7 linked regions of the Homo sapiens genome follow. The protein of the gene in region 4 purifies or fractionates together with the protein of the main gene of each other region. This does not show direct contact. Each region holds a gene or a part of one and is shown on either strand. Other genes may lie near its edges.

Region 1 (4,482 bases), on a different chromosome or scaffold from region 4:
GGGAAAGTCAATCCACCTTCTCTTGTAGGAAGGGTTCCTTCCTGAGTACCCTTAGGCTCTCTATATATTTCATGTGTTGTCATCAATATACTAATACAGGTGTTCCTCAAAATATGATGGGGTTATATCCCAATAAACCCACCATAAATTGAAAATATTATAAGTGGAAAATGCGCTTAATACACCTAATGTACTGAATATCATAGTTTAGCTTAGCTACCTTAAACGTGCTCAGAACACTTATATTAGCCGACAGTTGGGCATAATCATCTAACAGAAAGCGTATTTTATAATAGAGGGTTGAATATTTCATGTCAAGTTTTAAATACGGTATTGAAAGTGAAAGACAGAATGGTTGTATGGGTACTTGAAGTATGGTTTCTACTGAATGTGTATTGTTTTAACACCATCATAAAGTTAACAATTATACGTTGGAGACCATCTGTATTCTATATAATATCTCTCCTTGTATTTTCTTCTCCTTTTTGTGATGACTACAATCAGAGCAGGTGAAAGAAAACCCACCAATGCAAGCCAGCTCATTTGGTTTTCTAATAAAAGGCCCAGTGGTGTACAGTGTTGACTAAGATGGAACATGGATGTTAGTTCTTGACATCGCTTATCAGATATAAGAGAACCATGAGACAGGATGAATAATGGCATGTTGACGGTGCTTTCCTTATGGTATTTTTGTCAGAGCAACAATGAACTGCCCCTCTTACAGGCCAAGTGCTATGACATTTCAGTCCCTTGTATAGCATGTGGGCAGTCTACTAACTATTAAATATTATAGGGTGATGATACACCAGGCAAAGAATATAAGATAAAAATAGAGACTTTGACATCTGTTAGACATGGTTCAAATCCTGGCTTTGCTATTTTCTAGGAGTGTGGCTCTTGGCATATCACTGAACATTTCTCCAAGCCTCAGTCTTCTCATATGTAAAAATGAGATAATGATAATAGTAGCTACATCACAGAGTTCTTTAATAGATTGAAGAAATAATGCAGTAGAGAGAGGAAGTATAACTAAGTGGTTAAGACTGTAGGTTCCAGAGTCAGATTGCCTGTGTTCAAATACCAACTCTGCTACTTACTAGCTGTGACCGAGAGCAAATTACTTTGTCTTTGTTGCTGGTTAGGTTCCAGGAAGCAGACCCTGAAACAACGATTAGCAGACAGGATATATATTAAGGCATGCCCTTAGGATTGGCAGCTGTGGAAGGGAGAAGGAAGCAGGAGTGGGCATAGGGAGAACTTGGGCTGCAGTGCAGTTCCAGTGAAGGCCTCAGCTGACCCCAGAGGAAGTTCCAGAACTAGAATGGCCCTTCAGAGTGGGAGGTCTCAAGTTGGAGCTTGGGAATCAGGTATTTACAGCCCGTGGTGATCAGTCACTGGATGCAACTGCTATTGGAAGGAGGCATGACCTAGTAGGTAACATAGTTTTTTTTAGCAGAGGCAATCTCCAAAGAGGGCTGACATCAGTAGGCCCTCTTCTGGCAGCACTCCCAGCAGCTGGGAATAAGTCTTTCATTCTTGAAGGGGGCCTGCGTGGTTCATCACAATGTCCACCACAGTCTACCTCCATATTCTTATCTGCAAAATGGTGATAATAATAGTACCGACCTCACCAGTACAGGCAAGTGTTCAAGGAATAGGAGTTATGGAGCCATAGTCAGACTCTCAGATTTGTTAAATGTTACTGATTGAAAGGGTCTTAGAAATCAGTGGACCATTCCCTTTAAGAGGCAAGGAAGCCAGAGCACAGTGAGAGTAAGTGATTTGCCAAGTTCACTAGTGGAATAGCCAGTGGGGAATTGGGGGCATGTATCACCTTGCCACAGAGCCAGTGAGCCATAAAGGGAGCCATGTGACTGGGCTTACACAGTCCCTCACTTCATGTTGATGAAGCAAATACATAATTTACGTCCATTAATGTCAGCTCCTTCACCTGCAACTCTTGGTGCAGGAGTGAACTTTGGCTTTTATTCTATTTTGTTTGTGACAAGGATCATGTAAGAGCTGGAGGAACCACATAAACATTATTCCAAAATTGCCAATGTCCTTCTTGATTGTTTAGAATCTGTGGAAGCTGACCAGCATTGGTCTTTATGGGAAAACTTTTCTCTGACTCTCTGAGACTGACCACTTTTGCCTCTTTGGTTTTGTTCCAAGGGTTCTACGCCAGCCAGTGGACAGGATTTACTTTGCAGGCACCGAGACTGCCACACACTGGAGCGGCTACATGGAGGGGGCTGTAGAGGCCGGGGAGAGAGCAGCCCGAGAGGTAGGGTCTGGGGTCATAGATTATGGGGAAGGAGGCAACTCATGGTCCTGACATGTAGGTCAAAGATATCTGAGAGCCTGGAGACCAACTCTCCAGTAACCCCCATCTTAAGACCCATAAAATACTATTTTAACTATTGTCTCAGGTGAAGTGAACACCTTAGCCCGAAGTAATAATGAAAATACCTAACATGTCACCCGAAGTAAAAAGAGCCCATGGGGCAAACGATCAACCTGACTATACTTGAAAGGTAACCTAGGTCTGATATTCTAGAACCAAACATGCTTCTATTAGGACTCAAAATTCAATTCATTTCACAGGAAAGATTTTCTGACAGTTCCTCTGATGTCATCCCTATTTGAGGTGTGTTCATAACTATTAAAATTTATGGTAAGCCTAATGATTGGAACCTCTTATACCACAGGAGAAAGACCTTTTGGCGCCTCTTAAAGGTTGTATGGAGTGTTCTGGCCTTTACCTTGGTGTTTTTGATGGATATCTCAAGAGACAGTTACTTAGTCCTTTAGGGAGCAGATTAGAAGAAAGATGGTGTCACTTTTGCTATTTGCCAGTGTGTTCTTTCATTTCAGATCCTGCATGCCATGGGGAAGATTCCAGAGGATGAAATCTGGCAGTCAGAACCAGAGTCTGTGGTAGGCTATGTTTTATTTCATGAAATTAGATATCTTTTCTCTAAACCCATTATTTTCAAGAAGAGCACACTTGTATATATTCACATACCTTTTCCTAAGTGATTCAACTAAGTGATTTAAACATGAATGTTTAAATAAGTATCATGGGTTAGGGTAGAGGTGAGAGATTTAGATGAACTTTGATAAATTTGTAGCTGTCACATTCATTACAGATTATTAGGAAAAAATATTTTTTGATGAGGAGGGAGACATTTCTCGGAGACTTCTAAAAATAATAACTCAATAAATGCCTGTCAAATAAATATCTAGCCTGGTGATTCTCCACATGAGGTAGGAAAAGAAAGGAAAGTGTGTTAGCATCTCCTGTCCAGGGACAAACAAATGGAATGAAATGGAGAATATTTAGATTAAAATTTTATTTTTAATATACTCATCATTTTTGTAATAAAATCCTAGGAAGTTTTCCTGGCTGGAAGGAGGGATGCATAGAGGTTAGAGTGCAAACGCACTTTAGAGGACAAAGTCACAAAGGTCAGAATTATTGCTCTATCCTTTTAAGTGTGAAGTCAAAGAGAATAGGCCTGCCACTCCACAGTCATTCTCTTAGTGCTTCTGCCAGGGATGGGATTGTGGGCTGTAGGGACCATTGATTCATTTACTAACAAGTATTTATGGCACACGTGTTCTGTATCAGCCATTGTGGCAAAGGCACAGCAGCATTTTTGTGGAGCTCAACATCTGGTGGAGAATGCAGATGATAACCAAAAAGTACAGAACAGTGAAGAAGACATGCTGAGAAAAAATGCAAAAGGAGAATGTCATCCTAGGCTGGGGTCTCAGGAAAGAAAGCCTCCCTGAGGAAGTGAAGGGTCCAGTGAGGAAGACAGGGTAAACAGTATAAGCAGAGGGAACATCGTGTTTACTGGTCTAGACGTTGGCAAGAATGGGTCATGTTCAGAGAGCTGGAGAAAGTACAGACTTTCTGGAATAAAGTGCACAAGCCCTGTACTAATACCCAATGTTTTCTGAACCTAGGATGTCCCTGCACAGCCCATCACCACCACCTTTTTGGAGAGACATTTGCCCTCCGTGCCAGGCCTGCTCAGGCTGATTGGATTGACCACCATCTTTTCAGCAACGGCTCTTGGCTTCCTGGCCCACAAAAGGGGGCTACTTGTGAGAGTCTAAAGAGAGAGGGTGTCTGTAATCACACTCTCTTCTTACTGTATTTGGGATATGAGTTTGGGGAAAGAGTTGCAGTAAAGTTCCATGAAGACAAATAGTGTGGAGTGAGGCGGGGAGCATGAAGATAAATCCAACTCTGACTGTAAAATACATGGTATCTCTTTCTCCGTTGTGGCCCCTGCTTAGTGTCCCTTACCTGGCTTAGCGTTCTGTTTCACCAGTTTCCAAGTTTATTGCCCTCAAAATCTTTAGAATAGTTAAATTGGCTTGTTTAAGGTTCTTGCTGCCCCACAACACACCTTGCCCATGCACAAGGAATGAATTTTTTCCTACCATTATGGCTTTGTGCTTGTTCTT
Region 2 (5,083 bases), on a different chromosome or scaffold from region 4:
TCTAATAAAGGACTGTAGGCCATGGGGCCTAAACCACGAAGCTGTGAGCACCTGGATCAGTGCGTGCCTTGCCCTCATAGACAAGATGTGAGTGTCAGGGTTCAGCGTCCCTGTTCTTGGGTGGCATCCATGCGGCCCACAGGCTGTCCTGGGCAGGAACAGGATGGTCCACTTTGCCATCTAGGACCTCTATTCTGTAGGGGCTAAGGTGGGCTGCATATATAACCAGCACTTGGTTCTCTTGGATCCCTCAGTCCTGTGGGGAGTAGGATAGGCAGGCCACATCTGAGGTGGGTCTCCGAGAGGGAGGCCACGTGAAAGCCCCATCATACTCCTGGTTGCTGCTGTCCACGACCTTTAAGGCCCCTCCCATAGATCTTCCAGTCAGGCTCTAAGGGTCTTTTGGACTTAAGACTTCCCCTCCCCGACCTTGATGGACATGGCTGAGCACCTTACTTGTGGGGAGCCCAGGGGGATCTTTGGGGCCAGGTTGCACTGAGGGTATATAAGCCCCCATATATCTGCCCTTGGTGCTGGGGGCAAAGTTCAGGGAGGGCTCCGATGGCCGTGTTGGGGGCAGGAAACAGTGAGGGGTGGGATCCTGGGGCTGACTGCTGGGCGGTTGGGGACACCACCCCTACTGGCCAGCCAGTGTCCCAGGCCCCTGCATCCAGCGGAGAGAGCAGCCACTCTTTGCCCCTCTCCTCTTCAGCACAATAGTGGCTCCTAGCCTAGGTGCCCTGCCATAAGGATTTGGAGCTGGTGGAGTGGGGTATGGCCCCAGGCCATACCCCAGCCTGACCTGCCAGGCTCCTAGGCCAATGGCAGCTCCTCTGGGTTCACCTTCTGAGACTGCTTCCTCAAGGTGAGAGGCCAGGGCTTTCATGATCCAACTGTGTGCATCATGGGCTGACTTCAGTCTCCTGAACCCCAGGACTCCATCGTCGTCAAAGCCAGAGGTGGAGCAGAGAGTCAGAGCAAGCACATGGGTGGGGGGCAGAGCTGGGTTTGAATCCAGGCGATGCCAGTGTTCCTGTATTTACTGAGCACTTGCTGTATGCCTGGCAGGAGGGTACGATTCCTCGGATCATGGGACAAGGGGCTTAGCCTGGCTGAGCCCCTCTCCTCAGGGTTTCAGTGGGTGTCACAGGAGGACCTCCCAATGAGGTCCACCTTGCTGTCCTGTTGCTTTTCTGTTTGGCCTGATTGGAGTGTTCCCAAGGGCAGGGATTTCTGTGCTCTGAGTGTCTGGTACCCAGCAGGGATGGGAGGGGAGGCAAGGGAGTTAGATGCCAGCCCTGGAGGGTGGATGGGGCAAGCAGGACAGCAGGAAGGAGGCTAGTGGTGCCCAAGGGGCAGAGACCTGGGAACCCAGAGGCCAGTGATGGAAAGGGTTAGCGCCAGGCAGAGAGGGGCTGGACCCACACACAAGACCAGGCAGAGCAAACAAACGTAGAGGAGAAGGGCTGGGGGCAAAGTCCTGGGGAGAGGACCAGCCACTGTCAGCAGTGCCAGGGCCACCACCCCTGGGGAGGAGCCATTGGGCTACTCTTGAGGGGCCAGAGGTGAGCCTGAACACTCCACAGCTGCTGCTCCTAGGGAGGAGCTGGTACCATGGGTGTCAGGCAACAGTTGGCCTTGCTGCTGCTGCTGCTGCTCCTGCTCTGGGGCCTGGGGCAGCCAGTGTGGCCAGTCGCTGTGGCCTTGACCCTGCGCTGGCTCCTGGGGGATCCCACATGTTGCGTGCTACTTGGGCTGGCCATGTTAGCACGGCCCTGGCTCGGCCCCTGGGTGCCCCATGGGCTGAGCCTGGCAGCTGCGGCCCTGGCACTAACCCTCCTGCCAGCACGGCTGCCCCCAGGACTACGCTGGCTGCCGGCTGATGTGATCTTCTTGGCCAAGATCCTCCACCTGGGCCTGAAGATCAGGGGATGCTTGAGCCGGCAGCCGCCTGACACCTTTGTAGATGCCTTCGAGCGGCGAGCACGAGCGCAGCCTGGCAGGGCACTCTTGGTGTGGACGGGGCCTGGGGCCGGCTCAGTCACCTTTGGTGAGCTGGATGCCCGGGCCTGCCAGGCGGCATGGGCCCTGAAGGCTGAGCTGGGTGACCCTGCGAGCCTGTGTGCCGGGGAGCCTACTGCCCTCCTTGTGCTGGCTTCCCAGGCCGTTCCAGCCCTGTGTATGTGGCTGGGGCTGGCCAAGCTGGGCTGCCCAACAGCCTGGATCAACCCGCATGGCCGGGGGATGCCCCTGGCGCACTCTGTGCTGAGCTCTGGGGCCCGGGTGCTGGTGGTGGACCCAGGTGAGGGCCTTGGAGCCAGTGGAGAATGGAAGGGGGCAAGGGCAGGGACTATAGGACAGGGGTTCTGCTGGGACTGGCAGAGGCCCTTGGTCCCCACCTGCCTACTTTCACAGGCAATTATAATCAAGACTTATGAGCAGAAAGTAGTTCTCAGGTCATCAGAGTTTAATTTTCCCACAATTTGACCAAAAATACTAATGATGGGATTCTTTACCAAACAACATGGATGCTTTTCTCTACTAGCTGCTCCTCTGCCTGCATCTGTGGGTCTCAGATCCCGCCTCGCAACCTCAAAGGTGAGCCTTGCCTCTGTTTCTCCTCTGACCCATCTCTGCAGACCTCCGGGAGAGCCTGGAGGAGATCCTTCCCAAGCTGCAGGCTGAGAACATCCGCTGCTTCTACCTCAGCCATACCTCCCCTACACCAGGGGTGGGGGCTCTGGGGGCTGCCCTGGATGCAGCGCCCTCCCACCCAGTGCCTGCTGACCTGCGTGCTGGGATCACATGGAGAAGCCCTGCCCTCTTCATCTATACCTCGGGGACCACTGGTGAGGGTGCCCATTAGCCCTAGCACCAGCCTCTGAACTCTCAGGCTGACCTGACCCCACACTTGACTTGTGACTCAGTGTTGACCTCTGAAACCACTTTACCCTCTGATTTTGACATTTGTTTTTTGTTTGGCTGTTTTTTTTTTCGAGGCAGAGTCTCGCTCTGTCGCCTAGGCTGGACTGCAGTGGTGCAATCTCGGCTCACTGCAACCTCCACCTCCTGGGTTCAAGCAATTCTCTTGCCTCAGCCTCCTGAGTAGCTGGGATTACAGGCACACACCACTATGCCCAGCTAATTTTTGTATTTTTGGTAGAGACAGGGTTTCCCCAAGTTAGCCAGGCTGGTCTCTAACCCCTGACCTCAGGGGACCTGCCCAACTCAGCCTCTCAAAATGCTGGGATTACAGGCGTGAGCCACTGCTCCCAGACTTGATTTTGATATTTGGCCTGAACTCTGACCCCCAATGTAATTTGAGAGGTCAATGCCAGAATTCTTCCTGTGTCCAGTAAACAGCCACTGAAACCTTTGATCTTGACATATTACTTTCAGTCCAAATTCAGCCTGTGAACCCAACCACAAATCCCTATACTTGACTGTTCTCTGAGAGCCTCAAACCCCAATGTAGGCCTGGCTGTTGGAGATCTATCCCTCTGGTCAGGCCCCTCTCTGTGCTGTCATGTCACCACCCTGCCCTTGCCATGCCTTCATCCCAAGGCCTCCCGAAGCCAGCCATCCTCACGCATGAGCGGGTACTGCAGATGAGCAAGATGCTGTCCTTATCTGGGGCCACAGCTGATGATGTGGTTTACACGGTCCTGCCTCTGTACCACGTGATGGGACTTGTCGTTGGGATCCTCGGCTGCTTAGATCTCGGTAAGCCCACTTCTGAGGATCCCTCCAGTCTACAGGACCACGGGAGTAAGTGTCGGCGTGGGGCTGTCAAGGCAAAAAGACACCATAGGTTACCCAGCACCCTGTGTTCTCACTTTTGAGAAGGGACACCCACCAATGACTACCAGGGCCGCATGGACAGAAGCTTGGACACCCACACAGTCCCTGATGGCCATGCTTTGGTCAGGAGGTGACAAGACCTGATACGAGTGATGGTCACAGGCATCCAAGGAAGGTGTGGTGCTCAGGAGATGATGGGGATGCTGGCCCAGATTTGTGACATGGCCCCAAGGGCAGCTGGAGTAGGAGTGCTCTCAAGCACTCCACAGGGCTGTCTCTCTGGACTCTTGATTCAGAGTCTAGATGGGGACCTCTCCATAGCTTGTTCTTTTTGTTTTCTCTCTTTTTTTTTTATTTTAATTTTTATTTATTTATTTTTTTTCGAGACAGAGTCTTGCTTTGTCACCCAGGCTGGAGTGCAGAGGCATGATCTTGGCTCACTGCAACCTCTGCCTCCTGGGTTCAAGCAATTCTCCTGCCTCATCCTCCTGAGTAACTGGGATTACAGGCGCCCACCACCACGCCCGGCTAATTTTTGTAGTTTTAGTAGAGACGGGATTTCACCATCTTGGCCAGGCTGGTCTTGAACTCCTGACCTCGTGATCCACCTGCCTTGGCCTCCCAAAGTGCTGAGATTACAGGTGTGAGCCACCGCACCTGGCTATTTTCTCTCTCTCTCTCTTTTTTTTTTTGAGACAGAGTCTCGCTCTGTCGCCCAGGCTGGAGTGCGGTGGCATGATCTCGGCTCACTGCAAGCTCCGCCTTCCAGGTTCAAGCGATTTTCCTGCCTCAGCCTCCTGAGTAGCTGGGATTACAGGCACGCACCACCACGCCCAGCTAATTTTTGTATTTTTACTAGAGACTAGGTTTCACCATGTTGGTCAGGCTGGTCTCAAACTCCTGACCTTGTGATCTGCCCACATTTGCGGGCATTTGCCTCCCAAAGCGCTGGGATTACAGGTGTGACCCACCACGCCCGGCCTTTTTGTGTTTTCCAGCTATTATCATGGCCATGTGTGGTTGCTCATGCCTATAATCCCTGCACTTTGGGTGCCAAGGCAGGAGGATCACTTGAGTCCAGGAGTTCAACACCAGCGTGGGCAACATAGTAAGAGGCCATCTGTTAAAAAAAAATTTTAAAAAGCCACGCATGGTGGTATCGGGGGAACCTGCCCCTAATATTTCAATGTAGGTTCTTTTTTTTTTTTTTTTTGAGATGGAGTCTCGCTCTGTCGCCCAGGCTGGAGTGCAGTGGTGCGATCTCAGCTCACTGCAAGCTCTG
Region 3 (4,482 bases), on a different chromosome or scaffold from region 4:
TCCAGCCTGGGCAACAGAGCAGATTATCATCCTTGATGCAGTTGTTCAACACTTAACATATTTTTTGTGTGCTATCCTGCTTTTAAACTAACTTTAAGAAATTAGAACTGTTTATGCAGATGTGCTAAAGGAGAAGAAAGCCCTAAGCTATAAATAGTTTATCATTTCCAGGTCATGTAAAAATATTAATTTTGCTTATAACAGAGAATGAAATATGTTTAAAGTGCTGTATGGTACAGTAGAAAGAGGACTAGGATCAAAGAAACTGTGTTCTAGTCGTTGCTCTATCCAGAACTCTCCTGAGTGTAAGACAAATTACTTAACTTGTAAGTGCCTCATCTTTTTCATTTATAAAAATGAGGGAGCTTGGACTTTCCTTAAAGTCTTTTCCAGCTAATAATCTATAATTTGGTATTCTCTTAGGACTTTTCTTACATTCAGAACCTTCAGGAAACTCAGATTTCATTGGGGAAAGTCATATAATTATTGTTAGATTAGGATTTAGGGATCTAGTTTTTTATCCTTGTTGGATTATTTATTTTAAACAAGTAATTTGTTTACTGGGCCTCATTTGCCTGATTTATGAGTGCCTACAGTAGATGATTTCAACAGTCTTTCTAAATCTAAAAGTAACTGATTCTTTGTACCTGAAGAAATAAGTAAATTTAAAACGTATCATCCCTACAATGCATCTTAGCTATTTTAGTCTCTTTACCTGTTCTTTACTCTGGAATTTCAAACCAAAGTGTATTTTCAGTCAACATTTTTAAAAACATTATCTACCCATGATGTTTTGGGTACTATTTTAGTGATAGCTATTTCCAAGGCATTGTGGAAAATATTAAAATTATATGGCTCTAAAATGGTAGCTTAGTCATGTTCTTAGTGTTAAATCAGAACTAGCTTTGGCACAAATAAAAATGAATGATTTTTTGGCCGTCAGTATCCATGTCAAAGATTAACCTTTACATATTCTAAGGATTTGTATCTAGTTTGTCACATGATAGCAAACAGGTGAACTTGTGTAATGTAAGGAATTAAGAGGGGTGTTAAAAAGTAACAAACCATAAAGGAGTGGCATGAAAGGGATGGGAAGAGGTAGGGAAATGTAGTGATTTTATGACCTCTTAGCATTCAGTAAGAAACTTTATTTTTCACAGAGGGATATAGTGAATACCTCAATCCAGTATTTGTAAGTGTGTATATGTGCTTGAGAGTAAAAATTACCTATTCTGTTCCAAAAAGTTAGTCTTTACTTAGGGAGGGAATCATATATACGATAGGTGGCCTACTTTCTGGGTAGGATTCATATAATATTTTATTAACAGTAATTTCTCTCAAATAAGGAAATTAGGAAGTAAGTTTATGTCAGTTTATTAATAGGTTCATTGAAGTTCAAGGCAACTAAATTTGTTTATTTGAAAATTTATGTCTGTTATTATTTGCTTATGATATTCACTTGTAGAATTTCTCAAATTCTATGAAAAGTTAGAATTTAAAAACATGAGTTTCACTTTAAAAATAAGGCAATAAAACACAAAATAACTTATAGTCAGTATTTTTCATTCTTGAACATAGTTCATAGTTTAAAATGTGTAGACTTTTTTTTTTCTTTTTTCGAGACGGAGTTTCGCTCTTATTGCCCAGGCTGGAGTGCAATGGTGCAATCTCGGCTCACTGCAACCTCTGCCTCCTGGGTTCTAGCGATTCCCCTGCCTCAACCTTCCCAAGTAGCTGGGATTACAGGCATGCACCACCACGCCCGGCTAATTTTGTATTTTTAGTAGAGATGGGGTTTCTCCATGTTGGTCAGGCTAGTCTCAAACTCCCCACCTCTGGTGATCCGCCCACCTCCGCCTCCCAAACGGCTGGGATTACAGGCATGAGCCACCACGCCCGGCCTAAATGTATAGACATTTTAAATACTTGTTTAATGTTTCTAAATTGTCAGCATTGGAGGCCTTCTTCAACATCCAGTAGTACTGTTCAAAGAAACAAGATGAAAATGTATTAATTCTTTTTCTAAAAGAATATATAGTATGTTTGATGTGGACAATTTCTTTCATCTTGGGCTATAAATTAATGTCTTATGAGGAGATTTTTCTTCAGTATATTTTCAGCAGTTCAAATTTTCCACCTAATCAAGTTATTTCATTTATCATAATGGATGTTAGCCAGGTATCTGTTAGTTTATACTTCTGCTTATTCTAATATTAAGGTATTATAATCACTTCACGTGTCATAATTATCTATTTTTATGCTCTCCTATGAGAATAGCTGTGTCATTGTACAGAACATAAGCCTGTGTTTTCCAGGTCTAGAATGACACATGTGACATTGTATTGTCACTATTTGAGTGATACCTATTTCTAAATGCTTTGTTTTGTCAAAACTTTATGTTTAGAAATGTTGAAGTAAGTTGGAATGTTTTTTCGCTACCATATCCACTGTTGATCAATTGCTGTTTTCTGGAAGACAGCCTCTGTATCTGTTTTATATATGTCTAAATTTACCTGTCTAGCTTTATTTGACATATTATTTACTCTTACAGGAAAAAAAAGCTAAGAAATGTTAATTGAATGTTAATTAGCTACAATGAAAGGGTTAAGTTTTCTTTAAAATTTTGTTAACCCATTGTGTGACTTTTTTTTTTTTTTTTCTGGAGTGCAGTGGTGCGATCTCGGCTCACTGCAAGCTCCACCTCCCGGCTTCACGCCATTCTCCTGCCTCAGCCTCCCGAGTAGCTGGGACTACAGCCGCCTGCCACCACGCGCAGCTAATTTTTTGTATTTTTAGTAGAGACAGGGTTTCACCGTGTTAGCCAGGATGGTCTCGATCTTCTGACCTCGTGATCCGCCCATCTCGGCCTCACAAAGTGCTGGGATTACAGGCATGAGCCACCGCGCCCGGCCGACCTTTTTTTTTAACAGTTAAGAAAACACTGTTTGCAGTTATAGATATTAAACTGATTTTTTTGTCACTTGTCCACATCTTTTAGTATCTCAGAAAAATTAGCAATTTAGAAGGCCTTATGTATTGGCTACTGCTATTTTTCTGTTTAGTACATAGCAGTTGTTAAACTAAAATTAGAGCTTGTTTTCATAGTTTAAAATTATTCACTCACTAAAATACCTCTCTTGGTCCAGGTTCTAGCAACCATAATTTGATGTTTGAAGTTTTTTCAGTTGTTTGGTTTGGTGGGGAAGGGCTGTTGTTAATATTGTAAAACTATTACCTAGCTCTAGGCAGTTTAGTAAATTAGTTACCAGGCAAACCTACTGAAAAGATCGACTATTAACCCCAAAGGATCAACCATTTAAGCCTGTCAGCCATTTAAGCTTGAAACCAGAATCTAGAGGCTTTACTCAGAAAACAATTTTGGGGTGACAGAAACTTCAGCTTTCAAATAGAACAAGAGAAGTCTGCTGAAGAGTTCAGAGTAAAAATGAACACCCATTCAGCCAGAGACTAAAACAATACATGGACTGACTCTTGATTGATGAAGCGAAACTCCATGCGAGGATAAAAACTAAACTTAGTAATTGATACTGTGTATGAGCCAGAGACACTGTGTATGACAAAGAAAAATGAACCAGGTGTAATGATAGGAATCCCAGAATCTCACCCTAAATTTCCAGAGAGTTTGAGAAGACTGACTTATAGGATTAATGCATTATGGCATCAGACTCAGGGGAAGAGAGCTGTGGTCTAAGAGTAGAGTAACTAATGAGTGAAATCTAATATATCCTTGGCATAAAGGGAACCTGATGTCCCTAGAGATGAGAAAACAGCAAATTCCAGCCTTGAGGATGAAGCAGTGTCGAGGCAAATCTGGGTCAGACAGAAAGTTTGAATATCTTTGATTAGCATCTATCCTGAACATGGTGGATCCAATTCAGTTCTGTTGGCACATACCTATTATTTGTCAAGGAAGATTAAGAAAAGGACCTTGTCTTCGGGTTAATGTGACAGATGCATAAATAATCATTTTAACAGAAAATGATAGAAGAATATACAGGCTGCTTTGGTAGTTAAGAGAAGGAGCAATTTAGCCTAACCTGGAGTTTTTTTGTTTGTTTTTTAAGGCTTCCTTGAGGAGATGCAACCTGAGATGAGTTTCTGATGGATAGGAGTTAGGTAAAGACTAAGCAGGATATTGAGAAGGGACAGCATGAACTGAAGAGCCATAAAATAGCATGAAACTAGTTGAATGTTTGCCTAGCTTATCAGTCGCCCTAGGCCAGGATTTCTTAACCCTCTACTTTCTGGGAGCGGCTGTCCTGCGCATTGGAGGATGTTTAACAGCATCCCAGGCCTCTACCCACTAGACGGCAGCAGCAGCGGCAGCAGCAGCAGCATCTGCAGCAGTTGGGGCACCACAGTTGGGGCAACTAAAAATGCCCCTGGGGGGACACTCCTGGTTGAGAACCGCTGACTTGGCTAATATTTAGTTAAATTAGGATTATATATTCTGAAACTCAG
Region 4 (4,482 bases):
ATCTTCTTTGAAAACAGTCTATCCAATCCTTGGAACATTTTTAAACTTTGCTATTTGTCTTATTATTAAGTTTAAGAACTATTTATATATTATGGGTCATGTCAGATATATAACTTGTAAATATTTTGTCCCACTCTGGGTGCACTAAATTTTACTTTTTGATGTTGGTCTTTGAAGCACAAAAAATATAATTTTAAGTTAAATTTTTAATAATTGATTTTTTCAAACCCAAAGATATCAATGTGCAAAATTCCTTGTGGAGTCCAGCTACCATCAATTCAGCATTTATAGCTACTATCAATAATGTTTTTTTATATAAGCAGGGTATCATCTAAAGGAATACTTGAAAAATACTTTATCACAAAAAAAGAAGGATAATGAATGATAAAAATACCTTTAAAGAAGATAGGAAATAATTGAAAAAGAACACAAACCAGCTTGGACAAATAGAAAAAAAATATATAAAGCAAATTGGTAGATTTAAATATGATTATACAAATACTTTCACTCAATCTAAACAGACTTTAGAAAAGAGCAAGTAATTAGTAAAGACATAAAACATTTGAAGAACACAATTAACAAATGGAATCTTATAATGTAAAATGATACAAACGCACATACATACACACACAATAAACATATATGTATCATATATATCAACTTGAAGACACATTTTCCTAGAGCATGTCGAATAGTTATCTGAAGTGATATGTGGTGGGCAATAAATCAAGATTTAGTACATATAATAAGGTTCAATATCATAAAGACTATATGATCCAGCCATAGTGGAAGTAAGGGAGGTTATAAAAACTATAACTAACATATCTTTAAATTTTAGAGATCAAGAGGTGAATCACAACTATGTCTCCACTTTTATCTCAACAATTCTACTCCCAGTTATATACCCAACAGATATGTATAAATAAATCTAATACCATATAGAAGAATATTTATGACAGAATTATCAATATTGTCCAAAAATTGTTAGCAACCCAAATATCTATTAATCATAAAATGAAGACATAATCTGTGCTTTATCAATCAACAGAATACTACACAGCAATGGAATTACCCAACAACTGCTACATTAAAAAAAGACACTAATGAGTACGTATTATATAATTCAATTACATAAACAAGCAAACTAATGTATGCTATTCGAAGTCAGGCTAATCCTTAGTTGGTGGACAAAAGTGGTGACTAAATGGTTCAGAAAAAGAGAGTTATTCTAGGCAGGTTGTGATATCCTATACCACAATCTGAACAGTAGGTAAATCGATATCTTCACCTCAAGATAATGTTCAAGATGATCTTACATTTTTGAACTATTCACTTAGTGTATGAATATTTATCTTTTGTATTTAATATTTAAATGTTTATTTTATGAGATATATAATGCATTTTAAAATTCTAGGACTCAAATAGCAAAATAAGCACAGAAAATAGAGAAAATCCTAGTGGTTCCATCATAATGTGGCCAGTAAAAGCCTCTCTTAGAGGTAACATTAGAAGGAAGCCACAAGAAGGGAGAGAAGCATTCCTTGGGTTGTAGCAAGAGAGAGTACTCCAAGAGCGGGAGAGAGGGGAAAAAAATGTGTAAGGTACTAAGATGAGAACACCTTTGGGAGCTTAAAGTAAAATAGAAGGCCAATCTAGAAGACAGTGTGCAGGGGAAAAGTGTTAGGAAAAGAGTTTGCCCGTGTCTAAAAATGTAGGGTTCTGTAGACCAAATAACAGAGTTGGATTTTATTCTAAAAATAATGAGAAGCCAGGCAAAAGTCTTAATCAGGGGAGTGCTTTAAACTGACTTTAATTGAAAAAATCATTCTGGCTACAGGGTGGGAAAGAGTAGGAGACAAAAGAGTAATGTAGAAGCAAAGTGACTAGCTATGAGGCACGTCACTCACCATGACACAATTACTTTTTCGGAACTTAGAGATGATAATTCTCATATTGCATTTTCACGATCTTTCTCATAGCACTTAAAAGGGCTCATGATGTTGAGCATGTTCTCCGTATGTCTGTTTGAGAACTAAGAGTGTAATTAGATTGTTCATAATACAAAGGATAAATGCATAAGGGATGAATATCCTATTTTCCATGATGTGATTATTTCATATTGTATCAAAACATCTCATATACCCCATAAATATATACACTTAATATGTACCCTCAAAAACTTAAACAATTAAAAACAAATTAAAAATGCCTTATATTTTCTCTGCTTCAAAAAAAATTAACTTTCTCAGCTAACATTCAATTTCTACTTTAAAAATATTTCTCAATGAGAGAAGTCCAATTTAAAAGCCAAACTTTCTATGATGACTCAAATTAAAATACACAAATTCGATGTCAATTCTTTGACATTTATTTTGAATTATTTGGCCCTTTAAAAGCCTTTCGTAAACTTGATATGGACAGGCAAATTAACTTACTTTCAGTATTAGGGAGGAGACCATGCTTCATATCGTCTTATGCCCAATTTCTGCCTCCAAAGAAAGAAGTAAAAACTAAAAGGCAGAAATGAAATCCACAAGCAGACAGCCCAGTGCCACACCCTGTGCCTGATAGTTAAAGATCGACCCCTGACCTAACCAGTTATGTTATCTATAGATTCCAGACATTGTATGGAAAAGCATTGTAAAAATCCCTGTCCTGTTCTGTTCCATTCTGATTACTGGTGCATGCAGCCCCCAGTTATGTACCCACTGCTTGCTCAATCGATCATGACCCTCTCACGCAGACCCCCTTAGAGTTGTGAGCCCTTAAAAGGGACAGGAATTGCTCACTCAGGGAGTTCAGCTCTTGAGAGAGGAGTCTTGCCGATGCTCCCAGCCGAATAAAACCCTTCCTTCTTTAACTCGGTGTCTGAGGGGTTTTGTCTGTAACTCTTCCTGCTACATTACTGTCTTTATTTTTATCTTTCAGATATAAAGAGAATGTTATGAAATTATCAAGAATTCAACATGATCAACCAGTGAAGCCCCTGGATCGAGCAGTCTTCTGGATTGAATTTGTCATGCGCCACAAAGGAGCTAAACACCTTCGGGTTGCAGCCCACGACCTCACCTGGTTCCAGTACCACTCTTTGGATGTGATTGGGTTCCTGCTGGTCTGTGTGGCAACTGTGATATTTATCGTCACAAAATGTTGTCTGTTTTGTTTCTGGAAGTTTGCTAGAAAAGCAAAGAAGGGAAAAAATGATTAGTTATATCTGAGATTTGAAGCTGGAAAACCTGATAGGTGAGACTACTTCAGTTTATTCCAGCAAGAAAGATTGTGATGCAAGATTTCTTTCTTCCTGAGACAAAAAAAAAAAAAGAAAAAAAAATCTTTTCAAAATTTACTTTGTCAAATAAAAATTTGTTTTTCAGAGATTTACCACCCAGTTCATGGTTAGAAATATTTTGTGGCAATGAAGAAAACACTACGGAAAATAAAAAATAAGATAAAGCCTTATGAGCTCGTATTGAAATTTGTTGAACTTATATTGAAATTTGTTGTTCTAATTCACAGTATACTCACAAAAAAATTTACTCAGCTTAACTATATTTCACACATTGTACATAAACACAAGATCATTAAGAAGTCCACTGACAGTATCAGTACTGTTTTGCACATACTCAGAATAATTTGGCTTCATTTTGAACAGGATTGTATTGTTTTAACTGCTGCTAAAGAAACTATTACATAGTTAAATTGTACAGAAAGTCTCTCTTCCTTTTGATATTTTAAGATGAGTAGTATTGCTTGGCTTTTATAATGCATGCAGCTTTATTCTCATATTTTTCCTAAAATTTATGGCCAAGTGTTTACTGTTTTAGAGCTTAAGTCATTTCTCAGTGGAAATTATGGGGAATTAGAAATACAGCAACTCTTACCTTCTTCCTACTGTAAAATTGAACTATTTTGTAACATCTTTGGTTTCATGAGCCAATTCTATTTTTTCTAGATATTTAAAAATATACATCTGGTTGACTTTATTCTCATATTTTTAATTATTTCAATAGTTATTTGGGAACAGGTGGTGTTTGATTAAATGGGTAAGTTCTTTAGTGGTAATTTCTGAGGTTTTGGTGCACATATCATGTGAGCAGTGTACCCTGCACTCAATGTATATAATCTTGTATCCCTCACCCCCTCCCACCCTCCCCTCTGAATCCTGAGAGCCTATTATATTTTTCTTGTGCCTTTGCATCCTCATAGCTTAGCTCCCACTTGTAAGTGAGAATTTATGATGTTCAATTTTCTATTCCTGAATTACTTCACTTAGAATAATGCTCTCCCACTCCTTACAAGTTGCTGTTAATGCCATTGCTTTGTTTCTTTTTATGGCTTAGTAGTATTCCATGGTGTATATATATAGTATGTATATGTGTGTGTGTATACTTGTATATGTCTATGTGTGTGTGTATATATATATATATATATATATCACATTTTCTTTATCCACCTGTTGGTTGATGGGCATTTAGGCTGGTT
Region 5 (4,482 bases), on a different chromosome or scaffold from region 4:
TATTCACTGAACCTCTGTAAGATAGAGATAACAATATTTGCCTTCCCTATTTATCTAATAAGGTTGTTTTAAAACCAAATAAGGGCATATAAGGAAAGTATTTTGCCAATTGTAAAGTGATATGAAAATTAAGGTTAGTATTATTCCTGACCCTATTTCCAAAGCTATAGATTACTACAGTACATTCTAGTCAGTGGAGGTCAAAGTAGGTAAGATGTTTTACTTATAATTGTATTAGTGATTGCTCCCATAATTTCTTCAGGTTGCCTATCACTATTAAGTTTCAGTTAGATTACTTTGTGGCATAGACAACTTGGTAACTTTTTAATTGCTTATCTCACCAAAAGAAGTTTAAAAGGGGTATTAAGTCCATTTATTGCCATTACATCTATAGCAAACAGACAGATGCTGCTAACAGTCTTAGCAGTACCTGGTGAAAAAAAATTGTGGTTAAAAAAATATAATTTTTAAAAATATAATTTTTAAAAGATGCAAAATGCATCTACATAAACACATGACAGTATCGTAAATCCTCCAATACGGAAGGTAAGTTGTGTAAGTAAATAGTAAAGACTCTATAATTTTTAAAAGATGCAAAATGCAACTACATAAACACATGATGGTATCGTAAATCCTCCAATACGGAAGGTAAGTTGTGTAAGTAAATAGTAAAGACTCAGGCTGAGCGTGGTGGCTCATATCTGTAATCCCAGCACTTTGGGAGGTCAAGGAGGGTGGATCACGAGGTGGTGAGTTCGAGGCTAGCATGGCCAACATGGAGAAACCCCATCTCTACTAAAAATATAAAAAAAATTAGCCGGGCATGGTGGTGGGCACCTATAATCCCAGCTACTGGGGAGGCTGAGGCAGGAGAATCACTTGAACCCGGGAGGCAGAGGTTGCAGTGAGCCGAGACTGTGCCGTTGCACTCCAGCCCAGGCGACAATGTGAGACTCCATCTCAAAAATTAATAAAGACTCAATATTAAAGTAGACTGTGAGGAAAAGGTAGATCAGAAATTAAATTGAATAATATGTTTGATTTATTTTCATGTTTCTCTCTTTTATTCTTATGATAGTCTCTCTACTATTTTTCAGCTAATGATGCTGGCTACTTTAATGATGAAATGGCACCAATTGAAGTGAAGACAAAGAAAGGAAAACAGACAATGCAGGTAGACGAGCATGCTCGGCCCCAAACCACCCTGGAACAGTTACAGAAACTTCCTCCAGTATTCAAGAAAGATGGAACTGTTACTGCAGGGAATGCATCGGTTGGTATCACCACACAGATTAGCTTGAATTCTTCCTGGTGTGTTCAACAAAAGTAATCATGAAGTATCTTGTAAATACTTTTTATGCCAGTCTTTAGTTGTTTAGCTTAAACTAATAGTGTTCATATTCAATTAATTTAGGTTTTCATAGACCCACACAAAATCTTTTCATATTTATTTATATAATACTCTTCTGATTTCTTAATTTTTTCAGAACTAAGAAATTTCAGAAACAAATCTATCTGGCTTATTTTGGTTTTCAAACTTTTTTTTTTCTCATGCATACAGTTTATCGTATTTCTTCTTACATCTACTCACATCTAGATAAAAGTTTTTCCTTGACACCCTTTTCCTTGTTCTTTAGTAAAGTTGTATTCTGTGCCTTAAAAAATCTCCTTCATCCACCACAGTACCACTTTTCTAATTGTATCTCACACTGTGCACTGGCTTCCTATGTACTGCCATATTCCTAATACTACTAGTCCATTAGTTCAAACTTTGATTAACTGGATTATTTTAGCCTTTAGTTAATCTAGTATTTTTATTTTCAAGGGTGTAGCTGATGGTGCTGGAGCTGTTATCATAGCTAGTGAAGATGCTGTTAAGAAACATAACTTCACACCACTGGCAAGAATTGTGGGCTACTTTGTATCTGGATGTGATCCCTCTATCATGGGTATTGGTAAGTTTATAGTAAAACAAACTGGTTCTATAATATTTCTGGAGGTAAGTCTTCTTTGGCATTCAGAGTCCTGAAAAAGTGGCCAAACCAAGGTCACCTGTAGAGAAAAGAAGATTGGTAATCAGTTTAAATAAAAAATCTTTATGAAGAACTGTCCTAGACACAATAGAAAAACCAAGACCGTGTAAACTCCATGGAGGAAGTAATCATATCTTAGTGTCCATTTGAGATTTAAAAAATCAACACACAGTAATTATATCTTATTGTTCCTTTGAGAGTTTAGAAATCAACACAGAAAATAACAGAAGAATTACGTGATCCTGACAAGATAAAAGAAATTATGAGATGGGAGAAATCCTGGGGTGAAACAGAGAAGGCTGTATGGAGAAGGTGGTATCGCAGCTCCTTGCTGGTTGTTTTACACACATTCAGTCTTCCCACGTCTCCAGTAAGGGAGACTTCTTTGTGAATGAGAAAATTGAGGCTTAGGGAGGTTGTCTTACAAGGTTCCAAATCAGTAAGTGACAGCCAGGGTGTGAATCCAAGTCTCTCTGAAATCAAGTGCTCTCTTCACTGTGAGTTAAACGCATAGTCTCAGGAAGTCAAATTAATATTCCTCTTGCTCAGGTGAGTATTAGCAAAATAAAGACTTATAATTAGATTGGTAAAATGCTAGATGGAAAAAATTTGGAAGTCCATAAACATGTATAGTCTTGGCTTAAAATATTTGATTTAGAAGTAGAACAAAGAGCTTTTTGCTGGATGCACTCCTAGGAACCACACACGATGCTGAATTTTAATAGTTCCTGTCATTCTCTGGGGGAACAGGGAACCAATTAGGTGCCTTACTTAGAAAAATAAAATTTGGTGCTCAGTAACTTTGATATATCCCACCTACATATAACCTCCCACTGTAAGGAAAAGCCTGCCCTAGGGTATAGATTTCAGATTGTTTAGCCCTTTTTTGAATAACTAAATTGTTTTCTGAGGTGGGTTCCAAGAGAGGAGGAGGAGGATAACCTGTTACTGACCTGCCATCTCAGAGATCCTTCAGTGTAAGCCTACAGGTTCTACTCAAACAATACCACTTACACTGACTTGGGATTAATACTCAACCATATTTGCTGCCATGTCCCTCAGAGAAGACATATCTCTGTATAGAGTTCCTAAGAAAAAAAGCTGGCATGTTCATATTTTGTCATCTTTCACTATGTGTCTCAAATTTATGTCAGCAAGAACTGCAAGATATTTTGACACATATGAAAAGTCAATCTTAAGCTTATTAGCTTTTGGCTATCCACTATTGGCAAAAGATAACTTTTGTCTTAGAAATGGAAGGTGGTGGAAAAATTAAACATCCGTATGTTGTTATGGCATTTATTATTTTGATATCTAGGGTAGTGGTTCCCAACCTCAGATGATTGTCAGAATCCACTCATAACCCCCACACCCTTAGATTTTGTTTCAGTAAGTCCAGAGTGGAGCCCAAGAGCAGAGTTGGTTTTGTTTTTTGTTTTTGACACAGAGTCTCGCTTTGTCACCCAGGCTGGAGTGCAGTGGCGTGATCTCAGCTCACTGCAACCTCATTCTTCCCAGTAGCTGGGATTACAGGTGCCCGCCCCCACGCCTGGCTAATTTTTGTATTTTTAGCAGAGACAGGGTTTTTCCACGTTGGCCAGGCTGATCTCAAACTACTGACCTCAGGTGATCCGCCCACCTCAGCCTCCCAAAGTGCTAGGATTACAGGCGTGAGCCACCATGCCCAGCCCAAGAGCAGAGTTGGTTTTTTTCCTGCATACACCTAGATGCTTTTGATGATCAAACAAATGTATGTGACATGGGTTGGCTATTTTATACTCCTTTTTCAGTTTAACTTTATTTAATAGGTTCTGGTAGATTAGCATAGCCAGTGAACCAAGAAAGCGTTGTTTTCCTTCCTTCTGTTCCTGGGCCTGAATATTTGCCCTAAAGTACAAAGAATGCTCCTGTGGTAGGATTGTCATTTTTCCTCGGGGCTTGAACAGAGCTGTACATTCCAGATGTCCCACAGTATCAGCTGCCCCCTTCATCTAGAAGTTTGGCTGTCACTTGTATATAGTGATGGGATTAAACAAAGTAACTCGTTGAAGCATCCCAGATGAATAAGTGGGGAGAATAAGTTATTAAGTATCTAGTGGGAACTGGTTTGTTAATCTAACTTACAAGAATAGTGGTTCTCAGTTCCATGATTACCTAATGACTAGCAATCCTTAGCCCTGCAGAATAGCTGCAGACCAAAAAAAAACGGGGAAAGCCATGACTTGAAAAGAATAGTACTGGTTCTGAGGAAATACACAGCTATAGAAAGACAGCACTCCCTGGAACTCCTCAGGGGTGGCAATGGTAGAGGTTGGTGGGTGGAACTTTGAGCCTCTTCAGCTGGAGCAGTCTGGCATTATCTATTACTTGGCATCATATGCAAAAAGAATTCTGATGCTTAAAGAGAAAAAGGTGGAAAACCCATTCAGAGTGCTATTGATGAGTAGCT
Region 6 (4,482 bases), on a different chromosome or scaffold from region 4:
GGGTTGTAAGGAGGACATGGGGAGACGGGTTCAATGGTGTCTTTTCAAAGTGGCCTCAGCAGAACTTGATGGTGGGTTGGGAGGCGTGACATACTGGCATGTGGATGGGAAGGACGAGTAGAGGCAGGAGTTTCTGGAGCCGTGTCTGTGAGTAGAAGGGCTCCAGGGCCCAGCTCAGGCTCCTGCTTCAGGAAGAGCCTGGTGGGCCTCGAGAATATCAGCGGGAGGTGGCGTGCCCTGTGCTGGACCATGGGACGGTGGCTCCAGTCCCAGGAAGGTCTCCCCTTGCTCCTTCCATCTTCTCTGTGAAATACGAGGCCGGGTCATCAGGTGTGAAACGTGGGCACTGCCCCCCACCACCCTAGGTAGACTCCAGTGGCTGTAGGGCTGTGAGTCACAGGGGTGAGGAGGTCCAGCTGCCCTGAGGCATTGGATGGGGGTGGGGAGCTGGGGAGGCTGGAGGATGGGTGGGCACAGGCCTCAGGATGCTCTCAGGTGACAAGATTGCTGAAGGTCTTGCACTAGCACATTTATATTTTTATATTTCTTTTGTACCATGATGTTTTCTGATATCCTAGAACAGTTTTTTCTTAACCCTTGTATTTCTGGCAACTGAGGATGTTGTTAGAAAGTGCCATCTTTATCAAAGAACTGAGAGCAGGTGCTCGGTACACATTTTCTTCACATGTGTATTTATAGACAGATCTCTGGAATTGCATTATTTTGCAGCTTCAAAGAACCCCCGCTCTTGCTTGGTGTTCTGCATCCAAATACGAAGCTGCGACAGGCAGAAAGGCTGTTTGAAAATCAACTTGTTGGACCGGAGTCCATAGCACATATTGGGGGTAAGTCTAAGCTTGGGTGGGGGGGGAGCCTTCCAGGCTGTCTGTTGTCTGAGGGGGCGGGTTCTGTGGGAGCAGCTGCAGTGGCACGCTGCCCCTGGACTGGGGCCCTGCACATCCTTCTTAGCTGCGGACGTGGGACTTGGCCCTCAGACATCACATGGGAGGCCCTAGTGGCTCTTTCTGCTGGTCTCATCTGCCCAGTTTGCATGCCATTTTAGCACTGGGTGATTTTGAATTCATCTCTATGGAACACTTTGTTGTGCTCAAAGTGTTGTGAAAGGAAAAAGGCCAAATACAGATACTGATTTTTAGTTCATTTATCAAAGTTAAATAGCTATTTGACAGCACAGTATTTCTTAGTTCCATTTGCTTTGTATAGATTTCACTGTGATGAAGACAAATGGTTCTCAATATTTCCACTGTTTTTGTCTGACTGTTTGAAATCTCACCTTGATGGGTACACTTAAGGGTAACCATCTGCATCACACTTGCCCATGCCTCAGAACTAGAATTGGGTCTGGTTCTAATACTTGCATCTCTAGCAACCTTGAACAAGGCATTTTCTGTTTGTTAAAATGAGAATTAAGTTTAGTATTGGGAAGGCACAGATAGTCACAGATAGTTTAAAACTTAATCTGGTATGGGCTTGCTGAGCAGCTTCTTTGGAAGTGCCGCTTGTTATTCTGAAGCACACTGTTCTCCAGGCAGTGGGTGGCTGTGGATATGTGCACACAGGGTGCTTCTGTTGTGCTCTCAAGGCCGGTCAGTGGCCTCTCTTCTAGTGACGTTTGACCAGCTTCTCTTGCCTGGGCCCTGTTATTTGACACAGGCCCCAAGGACTGGTCCATTTCTGCAGTTGGTTTGTTTTCTTGGCTGTCAAAGTCAAAATTGTTTCAAGAAGAGTAAATATCATGATAGAACTTTGTATTTCTCTTAAAAAGACATTGGCATTTATTTGTGTAAATTTTAAAAGCTTTAGCTTTTTTTGGTGAAAAATCAAATCTTGCTCTTTAAAACTGAAACTTAACAGCAGTTGAAGTGCAAACCAATGATCTTACCTCCCAAAGAGAGCACTTTCCTGTCTTTTTCTTTTTCACTGGGTTACTTCTCATTGTACTTTGTCACCAGGTCCCAGCTTTTTCTCTTTCTTTGATGAGCTGGTGACATTTCTTGGCCAGGCACAGTGGGGTCCTCTCTGGTGGGTGTGAGCCGCAGGGACCTGCCACTGCTGTCTCTGCCACCTCATTTGGAAGCTGTCCTGGGGGCTGGCTGGCAGGTTGCTGACAGTGGAAGGAGGTACTAGCTCTGGGGAGTGCTGGGAGAGAGTAACCACCAACTATAGCAGGCTTTATTTTATTTGTTTTTAAGTAGACTTTATTTTTAAGAGCAGTTTTAGGTTCACAGCAAAATTGAGCAGAAGGTACAGAGATTTTCTGAAAAAGAGTTTTTATTACGATTGGGTGTTGCATTTCGTCAAATACTTTTTCTGCACACATGCCATGCACAGCCTCCCACATGATCAACATCCCCCACCACAAGGGTAAGTTTGTTACAAGTGATGTACTCACATCAATACGTCAATAGTACTCGGAGTCTGTAGTTTACGGTAGGGTTCACTCTTGGTTTTATACATTCTATGGGTTTGGACAAATGCCATGTATCCACTGTTATGGTATCTTACAGGGTGTTTTCACTGCCCTGAAAATCCTCTTTGCTCTGCCTGTTCATTCCACCCTTTTCTTTTAACCCATGGCAACCACTGATCTTTTTGCCATCTCCATAGTTTTGCCTTTTCCAGAATGTTATGTAGCTGGACTCATACAGTATGTAGCCTTTTCAGATTGGCATCTTTCACTTAGTAGTATGCATTTATTTAAAATTCCTCCATGTCTTTCCATGGGTTGATAGCTCATTTCTTTTTAGCACTGAGTAATATTCCATTGTATGGATGTGCCACAGTTTAGTTACCTACTGAAGTACATCTTGGTTGCTGCTAAGTTTTGGCAGTTATGAATAAGGCTGGTATAAACATCTGTGGGCAGGTTTTTGTGTGGACCTAAGTTTTCAGCTCATTTGGGTAAATACCGAAAAGCATAATTGCTGGATTGTATGGTAAGAGTTAAGTTTTGTAAGAAACCACCAAGCGTTTCCAAAGTGGCTGTACCATTTGCCTTCCCATTAACAATTAGTGAGAGTTCCTGATGCTCCATGTCCTCGCCAGCATTTGGTGGTGTCAGTGTTTTGGATTTTGGCCCTTTTAATAGGTGTATAGTGGTGTCTCGTTGTTTTAATTTGCATTTCTCTGATGATATTTGATGTGGAATATCTTCATATGCCTACCTGCCATCTGTATATCTTCTTGGTGATGTGTCTGTTCAGGCCTTTTGCCCATTTTTGTAATTGGGTTGTTCATTTTCTTATTGTTGAGTTTTAAGAGTTGTTTGTGTATTTTGGATAATAGTTCTTTATCAGACATGTTGTTTGCCAATATTTTCTCCAGTCTGTGGCTTCTCATTCTTTTGACAGTATCTTCTGTAGAGCAAGAGTTTTTAATTTTAATGAAGTTTCACTTATTAATTATTTCTTCATGTATCTCACCTTGGTTTTATATCTAAAAATTCATCATCATACCCTAGGTGTTATATCTAAAAATTCATCATCATACCTAGATTTTCTCCTATGTTCTAGGAATTTGTTTTGTATTTTATATTTAGGTCTATGATCCATTTTGAATTCCATTTTTGTGAAGGGTATAAGGTTTGTGTCTAGATTTATTTGTTTGCATGTGGATGCAAACAAATTTGTTCCAGCACCATTTGTGGAAAACACTGTCTTTTCTCCATTATGCATTGCCTTTACTCCTTTGTCAAAAGATCAGTTGATTGTATTTATGTGGGTCTGTCTCTGGGCTAAAAATTTTATCTGTTCTATTGATTTATTTTTCTATTCTTTTGCTAATACCACATTGTCTTGATTACTGTAGCTTTATAGAGAATCTTGAAGTTGAGTAGTTTCAGTCCTCTGACTTTATTCTTTTCCTTCAATATTGTATTGGATATTTTGAGTCTTCGCCCTCTCCATATGAACTTTAGGATTCATTTGTCTGTATCTACAAAATAACTTGCTGGGATTTTGATTGGGATTGCATTGAATCTATAGATTAAGGTTGGGAAAAACTGACATCTTGACAATATTGAGTATTCCTGTCCATGAACATGGAATATCTCTCCATTTATTTAGTTCTTTGATTTCTTTCATCAGAATATTCTAGTTTTCCTCATATAGACCTCGTGTATATTATATTATATTTATACCTAAGTATGCCAATCTTTTGGATGCTAATGTACATAGTATTGTGTTTTCAATTCCAAATTCCATTTGTTCATTGTTAGTATAAAGGAAGGTGAGTCAATATCTTGCAATATCCTGCAACCATGCTATAATTGCTTGGTTCCAGGAGGGTTTTTTGTTGTTGTTGATTCTTTCAGATTTTCTATCTAGACAATTATGTCACTTGCAAACAAAGAAAGTTTTATTTCTTTCTTCTCAATCTGTATACCTTTTGTTTCCTTTTCATGTCTTACTGCATTAGCTAGGTCTTCAAGTATGATACTGAAAAGGAGTGGTGATAGGGGCA
Region 7 (3,319 bases), about 31 Mb from region 4:
CCTCTTTTGTTGTCTTCAGTGGGGAAAAATAAAATAGATAATTTCATCTGTGCAGAAACTAACTATTAAATGTTAAGAGTCCTTAAGTCTTTTCATCAGCATTCCTTTTTCTAAATAAAATACTCTAAGCTCCTTTAATTTTTCTAATCTACCTGTGAGATTTAATGAAAGTGTTTTACTTTGAATATAAAACAATGTCTTTGAACTAGTGTGAAGATGAAAATTATTAGCCTTCTGTTACAGAATTTTTAAAAAGGAAATAGAAATGCAACTAATTTTAATTTTTTGATATTTAAAAACACATTCAGGCAAAAGTGAGATATGTGATAAAATCAAATTTTTGATTCATCTTGAGCTATGGATGAAGGAACTGAGAGCAATCAAACAGTAGCACATTTAATGTGAAGTGTGACCCACAGTGTTACCAAAAGGAAACACAGAATGAAAAATGACACTGGTCATCAAAAGGTTCACAATATAACTTAGGGCTTCCCACATAATCAGTCATCTTTCACCTCTTTCCAAAGTACTTTCTAGACAGAAGTTTTTCCAAATGAAATGGAATTGAATTCTTTGCAAAGAGAAATCAACAACAGCAACAACAACAAAAAGTAATTTGGATTTTTTAAAAAAGTACACAGTATCCTTAAGAATCTACCCTTATCCATATTGTAACCAATCTGTCTTCCATTTCCACTTGTTCATTTGAAAAAAATATCTTTTAAACCTTTGCTGAATATAGGACATCAGAAGGTACTCTAAGTGATTCAGGGATTAAAACGACCTCTGACCTATTTTTACACTGATCATAACAGCAGCAGGGGTTTTAATTTGCGCAGCAAAAATTAATATTCCTGTCAAAACATAAGGGCATAAAACTCTCATTTAATTGTGAAAGCAGTTTCTCACAGTTTGATTTAAAGTCCACAATTCAATTACAGTAGAAGTAAGTCTTCTGTTGAAATTATTTATCCTCTTCATCATTATCCAGGGCACATTCCCCAGCCAATGCAATCTGTTTATCCAGTTATCTAGAGCATCATTAAAGGACCCACCATATTTTTCCTCCTAGGACCTACTGTACATGCCCCACTGTAAGAATGATTTTTTGTAACACAATATTTTTTCAAATATCTTGGCAATCAAGGGCTTACGCCTCTAGAGACTCTTTGGAGAAGGTAATGAAATGGAATTAAAATAGCTGCCTAGAAGCCAACAGAGAGATAGTTAACAAAAAACTATAAGCATCGATTGTCTTCTTGGTGAGTTTAGACTCCATTTTAATATAACTTGGGTATTTCTGACCTGCTGAGAGGACTGGGTTCCAAGAATGTTTTCATTTTGGTCTTTGTTATGCCCATACAAAACAATGTAGTATCTTACAGACACTCCCCACATCTGCAACTGAAGGCAGGGGAGAGCTCAGGGGAAGGGCAAACCTTCCCTGCCCAATATCTGAGACTCACCAGGCCCTGGTTACCAGCAGAACTCTAAGCACATCCAGGTCACCTCTGAATCCCTTAAGTGTTTCCTTCCAGTCACTGGCATCATACGTTCAGACCCTGTAAAGTTACAGCTGTTAGTCCAATACCATTAAATATAATATGAACAAGTTTTTTCTTTTTTTCTCAAATGTTTAGGGTGACTGTGGTAATAACCACTGACATCACAGTGGACTCCTCTTTTGTGAAAGCTGGCCTGGAAACCAGTACAGAAACAGAAGCAGGCTTGGAGTTTATCTCCACAGTGCAGTTTTCTCAGTACCCATTCTTAGTTTGCATGCAGATGGACAAGGATGAAGCTCCATTCAGGTAAGATGCAGCGTTCAGGTCATGTTCCAGGACCATCCCCAGTGCACCAGGAACTTGCATTCAGTTTAGAACATTCAGTTTCAGAATTAAAACAAAACAGTAGAAACCCAGGGAAAGATGAATTTTCTTTAAATGAGTAGAAGAATAATTGATAAGGCCAAAAAAAGTCAGTTTCTGGGATACCAAAAAAAAATCTAATGACTAGTTCATTTGATTCTGGAGATAGTTATCATATTCTAATCCAGAAACAATTTATCCAGGAAAGAAAGGCCTATGATTTACCATAGGAGTTGCCACATAGTTTCATAAAAAAAATCAGATACACATTTACTGTCTGGTATCTTCACAATAAACTGCTGGACAAAAGATTTCAAATAAAACACCTGGCAATCCATTTACCATGTTTAAGGGCCAAAATGAATTCGCAATTTTTAAGTATTCCATATAGCAGCAACTTGACCCTGTTTAAGTTTTGGCTCAAGTTTCAGAGTTTGGGATTCTGAATTTTTTTAAATAATGCTTTTGGTAAAATAGTTAGTGTTTTAAAATACAAAGATATAATTTCCATGTAACATTTGTGCTGTGTCATTTGAATTTTGTAACCATTATTTGTAACAATACTATCACATAGAGCTAGAATGCCTTGAGTCTAGGTAGCACTGACCCTTTCATAATAGTTGACCTACGGTAAGCATAAGGGTCATTTGTACAGTTAAAACAGCAAGCCACATCTTACATCATCTCCTTTTTTAAGTAGGCCAAAATTGAGCACCTTCATTATTTTACTGACATTTCATGATTCATATTAAAAAACGCATTGATTATATAAAAGTAAACGAGTCAGTTGTATTTTCAGAGAATAAAAGATTGTGCTTTATAGTTAAACTATTAAGCTGTCACTAACTTACATTAAGTTATATCTAGAATGAACCTCCACAAATGCATTTTAAAAACCCCAACCTTCTAATGGTTGAAATGCAGTGACCACCAACCCACCCACATGATTAATTGGTTTGGTTCCACATTTGCCTTGGGCCAGAGCTCTTAGAATGTTTCTCTGTCCGCATTCTCTGCTTAAATCCAGCTGGGCTTGCCTGTTACTCAAAAGGAGAGTGCTCCCAAGGTGGGGCTTCTGGAATGAAGGGTGAGACACAGCACAGCCTGCAAAGCTTAATGGCATCACCAAAAAGCTGAAATGAATTTAGTCTTTCATTCTAGAAAAATGTATGGCAGGACTCCCATATCCCAGGCATTTGAAGTGTTTCTGTTGATATAAAAAGAAATGAGAAGAAAATCACCCATTCATGGAGTAGCCTTTGACACTCATATCCTTTCTCAGATTGCTTTGGAACAGAAACTTCAAGTACATTCAGTAACTTGGCTGGAGAGGTATAGGGTGACTTAACTGTGTGTGTAATTCTGTTATTGTTGCTGTTGTTGTACAGGCAATTTGAGAAAAAGTACGAAAGGCTGTCCACAGGCAGAGGTTATGTCTCTCAGAAAAGAAA

The links.
Region 1: the proteins of UGT2B7 (region 4) and MAOB purify together in Homo sapiens (co-immunoprecipitation; one study listed by IntAct). This does not show direct contact.
Region 2: the proteins of UGT2B7 (region 4) and SLC27A5 purify together in Homo sapiens (co-immunoprecipitation; one study listed by IntAct). This does not show direct contact.
Region 3: the proteins of UGT2B7 (region 4) and MPC2 purify together in Homo sapiens (co-immunoprecipitation; one study listed by IntAct). This does not show direct contact.
Region 5: the proteins of UGT2B7 (region 4) and ACAA2 purify together in Homo sapiens (co-immunoprecipitation; one study listed by IntAct). This does not show direct contact.
Region 6: the proteins of UGT2B7 (region 4) and APMAP purify together in Homo sapiens (co-immunoprecipitation; one study listed by IntAct). This does not show direct contact.
Region 7: the proteins of UGT2B7 (region 4) and MTTP purify together in Homo sapiens (co-immunoprecipitation; one study listed by IntAct). This does not show direct contact.

What each region holds. Positions count from the first base shown.
Region 1 is NC_000023.11:43,767,112-43,771,593, reverse strand, and holds part of MAOB (amine oxidase [flavin-containing] B), read left to right. Parts: intron 1-2,175; coding exon 2,176-2,287; intron 2,288-2,877; coding exon 2,878-2,940; intron 2,941-3,975; coding exon 3,976-4,128; 3' UTR 4,129-4,482.
Region 2 is NC_000019.10:58,508,487-58,513,569, reverse strand, and holds the start of SLC27A5 (long-chain fatty acid transport protein 5), read left to right. Parts: upstream 1-1,577; 5' UTR 1,578-1,614; coding exon 1,615-2,302; intron 2,303-2,446; exon of another isoform or gene 2,447-2,639; coding exon 2,640-2,849; exon of another isoform or gene 2,850-3,564; coding exon 3,565-3,723; exon of another isoform or gene 3,724-3,786; intron 3,787-5,083. UniProt on the Homo sapiens protein: May mediate the import of long-chain fatty acids (LCFA) by facilitating their transport across cell membranes. Also catalyzes the ATP-dependent formation of fatty acyl-CoA using LCFA and very-long-chain fatty acids (VLCFA) as substrates.
Region 3 is NC_000001.11:167,926,497-167,930,978, reverse strand, and holds part of MPC2 (mitochondrial pyruvate carrier 2), read left to right. Parts: intron 1-4,482. UniProt on the Homo sapiens protein: Mediates the uptake of pyruvate into mitochondria.
Region 4 is NC_000004.12:69,109,529-69,114,010, forward strand, and holds the end of UGT2B7 (UDP-glucuronosyltransferase 2B7 isoform 1 precursor), read left to right. Parts: intron 1-2,928; coding exon 2,929-3,208; 3' UTR 3,209-3,459; downstream 3,460-4,482. UniProt on the Homo sapiens protein: UDP-glucuronosyltransferase (UGT) that catalyzes phase II biotransformation reactions in which lipophilic substrates are conjugated with glucuronic acid to increase the metabolite's water solubility, thereby facilitating excretion into either the urine or bile.
Region 5 is NC_000018.10:49,788,943-49,793,424, reverse strand, and holds part of ACAA2 (3-ketoacyl-CoA thiolase, mitochondrial), read left to right. Parts: intron 1-1,097; coding exon 1,098-1,273; intron 1,274-1,825; coding exon 1,826-1,955; intron 1,956-4,482. UniProt on the Homo sapiens protein: In the production of energy from fats, this is one of the enzymes that catalyzes the last step of the mitochondrial beta-oxidation pathway, an aerobic process breaking down fatty acids into acetyl-CoA.
Region 6 is NC_000020.11:24,975,130-24,979,611, reverse strand, and holds part of APMAP (adipocyte plasma membrane-associated protein), read left to right. Parts: intron 1-729; coding exon 730-845; intron 846-4,482. UniProt on the Homo sapiens protein: Exhibits strong arylesterase activity with beta-naphthyl acetate and phenyl acetate. May play a role in adipocyte differentiation.
Region 7 is NC_000004.12:99,619,421-99,622,739, forward strand, and holds part of MTTP (microsomal triglyceride transfer protein large subunit isoform 1 precursor), read left to right. Parts: intron 1-1,640; coding exon 1,641-1,811; intron 1,812-3,256; coding exon 3,257-3,319. UniProt on the Homo sapiens protein: Catalyzes the transport of triglyceride, cholesteryl ester, and phospholipid between phospholipid surfaces. Required for the assembly and secretion of plasma lipoproteins that contain apolipoprotein B.